Regions from separate parts of the Homo sapiens genome. Here region 2 is linked to region 1. Evidence: fine-mapped expression QTL. Tissue or cell type: putamen. Region 1 holds a variant in brackets; the other region holds the start of a gene. All regions are shown on one strand. Distances are between the middles of the regions.

Region 1 (2,767 bases):
CGTGGAGGAGCACCCTTCCCTGGAATGTGTCACAGTTTTTATCCATGGCTTGGTAATTGACACAAACACCGTAGCCTACTGTATACCCTGAATGAGGTGCCAGCAGCTGCCAGCTTTTGTTGATGTTTTGGAAGAGAGGATGCCTGTGGAAGCCTACTAGGAGTGATGCAGACTAGGGGGAGCTGTAGCTCAAACATGCACAGAGACAGTGGTGAGGAGCCACTCTTCCTGGAGGAAACTACAGAGATTCCCATACTAGAGATGGCAGGCAGGGATTAGGGGACTGGGAAATGGAGCAGAAATCAGGCTGATCAATGAAAGGACTCTCCACAGAGGCTTGATGCTGTGGTTCCCCTTCTCTACTCCAGCAAACATTAGTGGGGTAGAGATGCAGCACTGACTTTTCTGTAGACAGGGCCATCCTTAGGGCATGCAAGGCCCCAGCAAACTGGGTATGTGTGTGTGTGTGTGTGTGTGTGTGTGTGTGTGTATATTCTTTGTCTATGAAAACAATTTGATTTAAAAATGCATTACACAACTCATGGTCCCATGTGAGGTATAGTCATTTATGAATAAAAATTTTTTAATGAGTATCAAAAGACACTAATTTGTTCATTGCCTAATCATTCTACATGAAGATTCTTCATCGTGTCCAGGCACCATCTCTTCCTTTTTGGAGTCTAGATCCTCTGTGTTTTTTATTGTCAAATGTGCACAATGTGCTGTTCTTGGTTAATTTTATATCTTCTCCGACCAGACAAAAATGACAACACTGCTATTACAATGCATGGCCCTTTAGAACCTGTTTATACAAGTTGAAAGGATAGAGATTTTCTTGCCCTTCTGTTTTCCTAATACCATGTATTCATTATTAATTATATCATTTCCCACAGTGTTGATCATCTATTGTACCACCCATGAACAATGGCTTCCTTCCAATGACACTCAAAGGTTGCTTCTGTGCTTCATTGATAACCACAATTACAAATATTATCCAAGCGGGAAAAATCTAAATAATATTTCCTCTTCTAGTCTTGTTAAATTTACCATTTGGAATCTATAGTATGTCTTCATCTGAACTCTTTAGGCCATAATCAACACATGGCTAAAATGGGATTTCTTTCCATGGGGCCTGCATCCCTGCTTTCTACCCCTTGTACCCAGTGGGAGGTCAGATCTTATGAGGAGTGATAGAGCAGCTCCATCCCCACGAGAAATGTCCACCCATCTGCTAGCATGGCTTAAGATGAGCCCAGGAGAATGCCCCATTTCTATATGCATTGGAGGCAGGGCATTGAAAGGAGGGGCCCATTGGTGTTTTAGAAATCTCTGGGGAGAGAACAGCCTGATACATGGGCTGGAGCCAGTGGTGGGGGTGGGGTTGGGGGTGGGGGCTGGGAGGCTGAAAGAGGAG[G/A]TGACTGGCCTGGGTGCCATAGTAGGAGCACACAGTATAAAGGACATCTGTTACCACCCTCCCCATCCTCATGTGTCATAGTCCACAGGTGCCAGATGTAGCATCACAGTTGGAACACCAGGCAAGGGCTGTCACAAAGGCCCACACATATTTGCAAGCCCCAGAGTTGGGAATGAACAGTTGGTAGCCTAGAGCCCTGAACTGGAAACATGTAATAATCTCTAGTAAATCTAACGGAAAAAATAAAAGAATCTCAGTTGCTTTAATACAGCATAATAAAAAGAAATACCATTTCATAAAAACCATACCCCAAATAATTGGACTTGGTGGATTCAGGAGGAGCTGCCAAATGGAGTAGGGTCATTTCATCATATGTCAAAGTATCACTTGTAAGATGGCTGGGATAGACTGAATCCTGCCCCCCCAAAATTCATATGCTGAATCCTGAATCCTCAGTGTGATAGTATTTGGAGGTGGGGACTTTGTGAGGTGATGAGGCTTAGCTGAGTTCATGAGGGTGAGGTCCTCCTAATGGGATTAATGTCCTTATAAAAACAGACCTAAGAGCTTTCTCTCTCTCTCTCCCCGCTCCATGTGAGCACACAACCAGAAGGTGGCCGTCTGCAAGCCAGGCTGTCTGTCAATAGCTGTAGGATGCTTAGAACAGTTCCTGGCATGTAGTAAGCTATGTGTTTATTAAATTAAATATACACAAATAAAAGTAAAGCACCTTTGAACTGTCTTTTATGTGTATATTATGTTTAAATATTATTTTTTGATGACAGAAAACAGTTTAGATCTAATGCCTCAGGTGTTAGTTTTTCTCCTTTTCCTTTTCTATACTATTACTCGGTTGTTGTTAATTTATATATTATTTTTCTCTGCCTCGTAATTCATCAGTGATACTGAAGCCTTTATGTCATGGTTGGTTTCCCTTTCCTCATCCAAAAACTTACTAAAGAATAGAAAGCATTTATAATAAGAAAGAAAAATATTCATTAATAATTTAGATTTTCCTATACACCTATGTGTGTGTATTTTATTTTCCCTTTTGTCAGAGTGCAATTTTATCTGTAACCAATGATGTTATCACACAATTGAATAAATCAGCATTTTTATTTAGAAGACAACATTTTTCAAGTAGAGAAAAATTGATCCTCTGAATATTCATTTCTTTATCTTAAATAAATAATGGTTATCTTTGCAAACACAGTGATTGCAAGACATGTACTTCTGCTTTCTCTTAACCTAGAGTTTTGTTGTTGTTATTTCATTGGTTTTGTTTTGTTTCATAGATAGCACATTTAGAACATTAGGAATGTTATCTTGATTTTGTCCAAATCTTTGAAGGTC
Region 2 (2,627 bases), 78 kb before region 1:
GGTGGTCCTAAGCTGGATAGATCTTTACTCTGACCAGTACCATATAGGTCTGTGGTTCTCAAACCTGGCTGCACAGTGTGGCACTTTAAGTAATCCTGATACCCAGTCCCATCCCCAAAGATGCTGATTTAATTTGTCTAAGGTGCAGTTTGGGCCTCTGGATTGGAACCAACCCATATACCCATCAATGATAGACTGGATAAAGAAAATGTGGCACATATACACCATAGAATACTACACAGCCATAAAAAAGGATGAGTTCATGTCCTATGCAGGGACATGGATGAAGCTGGAAACCATCAACCTCAGCAAACTAACATAAGACCAGAAAACCAAACACTGCATGTTCTTACTCATAAGTGGGAGTTGAACAATGAGAATACACAGACACAGGGAGGGGAACATCACACACGGGGGCCTGTTGGAGGGTGGGGGTTAGGGGAGGGATAGCATTAGGAGAAATACCTAATGTAGATGTTGGGTTGATGGGTGCAGCAAACCACCATGGCACGTGTATACCTATGTAACAAACCTGCATGTTCTGCACATGTATTCCAGAACTTAAAGAATATATATTTATATATGTATAAATATATATGAATATATAAATATAAATATATATATAAGCTCCCCACGTGATTCTAATGTGTGGCCAGTCTTGCAAACCTCAGGCTATTTATTCTAAAGGGTTTGTAACAAGCCTTCCTCTTAAAATCCACCCCACCACCATTCAGCGTTTTGGGGTCTGTTTGTTTTTATTGTTATCCCACCCCACACCGCCCCGAGGCGCGCGCGCGCGCGCGCACACACACACACACACACACACACACACATACACACACGCACACTGGTGAATTTCTCTCTACAGTCAGTCTGGAGTAATCCCAAAGTGGTGTCTTTCGTAAATAAGGAGAACCCGGGTGAAGAAAATGACTCCCACCCGAACAAGGCATGAACAATGTTCACTCCCTACTGTGTTATTCAACCTGTTTCCCCAGGTCTCTGTTTTCACATTAGAGAGTGTTCTAGGAGATGACGCCCTTCCTCCTTAGTTATTTCCCCACCCTCGTGCTGGCCTTTGACAGACCTCCCAGTAGAGGGCCCAAGACGCGGGTAGAGCACCGCGTCTCAGCGCCTGAGTCTCAGCCCCCGAACTCCACCGCACCTGCAGGTCCCCTTGGCAGCACTCAAGCGCGGGGATGCTCCGCTTAGACGAACTCACGTGCGGGCAGCAAGGCCTGCGATACTTGAGCACCCCTCCCCCTCTCCCGTTTACACCCCGTTTGTGTTTACGTAGCGAGGAGATATTTAGGTTTCTAGAAGGCAGGTCATCGCAGGCCCCACCCAGCAGTGGAGAGAGTGAGTCCCAGAGGGTGTTGCCAGCGAGCTCCTCCTCCTTCCCCTCCCCACTCTCCCCGAGTCTAGGGCCCCCGGGGCGTATGACGCCGGAGCCCTCTGACCGCACCTCTGACCACAACAAACCCCTACTCCACCCGTCTTGTTTGTCCCACCCTTGGTGACGCAGAGCCCCAGCCCAGACCCCGCCCAAAGCACTCATTTAACTGGTATTGCGGAGCCACGAGGCTTCTGCTTACTGCAACTCGCTCCGGCCGCTGGGCGTAGCTGCGACTCGGCGGAGTCCCGGCGGCGCGTCCTTGTTCTAACCCGGCGCGCCATGACCGTCGCGCGGCCGAGCGTGCCCGCGGCGCTGCCCCTCCTCGGGGAGCTGCCCCGGCTGCTGCTGCTGGTGCTGTTGTGCCTGCCGGCCGTGTGGGGTGAGTAGGGGCCCGGCGGCCGGGGAAGCCCCTGGGCTGGGTGGGAGGTCCAAGTCGGTCTCTGAGACACGCACAGGGGCCGGCGACTTGGCAGGTGGGGAGCTTGGCCCGCGGTCGTGGTTCCCGCCGTCCTGTGCCTTTAAGGCTCTCGCCGCTCACCAGCATTTGGGGCTCCTGCTGTGTCGGCCCCCAGCTGACTTGGCTTTAGGGGTCGGCGTGGAGGGTTAAAGAGGCCCCGGCTGGGTTTGCGGAGCAGCCAAGCCTGGCAAAATCGAAAGGGAGGGCTCAAAGAGACTGTATCCTTAACCCCCAAAAAGCTGGTCTAAAAGGATGGGAGGCCAGACCGCTGACCGTTCCCCACTCTCGACAGAGTCCAGCCGTGTGGAGCACACGATGCTGCAAACTTGCATGTCATCTCTTTCAGGTGTGGCATTTCAAGGGGGCTTGTGTCTTGAAAACAGCAACTGTGAGGACACTTGATAGTCATTTCCTTCAGTTCTGCTTTTGTCTCCCTAGGTGACTGTGGCCTTCCCCCAGATGTACCTAATGCCCAGCCAGCTTTGGAAGGCCGTACAAGTTTTCCCGAGGATACTGTAATAACGTACAAATGTGAAGAAAGCTTTGTGAAAATTCCTGGCGAGAAGGACTCAGTGATCTGCCTTAAGGGCAGTCAATGGTCAGATATTGAAGAGTTCTGCAATCGTAAGTTCTTCATCTTTTTAGAAAAGTTCTGGGAATGGAATGTATCTTAAATTTATTTTTATATACCTTTGGAGTGACTAGTAATTGATAGTTCTCTAGCGTTACTAAACCCCAGGGTATACCCTGTTGGCACGTCACACTCCAGCTAAT

Direction of the effects. Alleles are on the strand shown, and positions count from the first base shown. SD is a standard deviation of normalised expression in the study named.
In carriers of allele A in region 1, the expression in putamen of the gene that starts at base 1,588 in region 2 tends to be higher than with G alone (moderate effect, 0.47 SD a copy in GTEx).

What was found. PIP is the estimated chance that this variant, and not a neighbour inherited with it, causes the effect.
Region 2: it holds the start of CD55, and the variant in region 1 is fine-mapped to the expression of CD55 in putamen (GTEx, PIP above 0.99). The same link has a PIP of 0.9 or more in caudate, cerebral cortex and prefrontal cortex.

What each region holds. Positions count from the first base shown.
Region 1 is chr1:207,397,683-207,400,449 of GRCh38, forward strand. No RefSeq gene overlaps it. Among named protein-coding and RNA genes, the nearest start is that of CR2, 55 kb to the right of the region's middle. The variant G/A (reference allele first, on the strand shown) is at 1,415.
Region 2 is chr1:207,320,091-207,322,717 of GRCh38, forward strand. It overlaps CD55 (CD55 molecule (Cromer blood group)), which reads left to right and starts at 1,588. Exons shown (of 10, transcript NM_000574.5): 1 at 1,588-1,775; 2 at 2,292-2,477. The coding sequence starts at 1,676. It overlaps LOC107985251 (a long non-coding RNA gene), which reads right to left and starts at 2,039. Exons shown (of 3, transcript XR_007066838.1): 1 at 1,596-2,039. RefSeq lists an enhancer at 1,014-1,223 and a silencer at 1,784-1,863.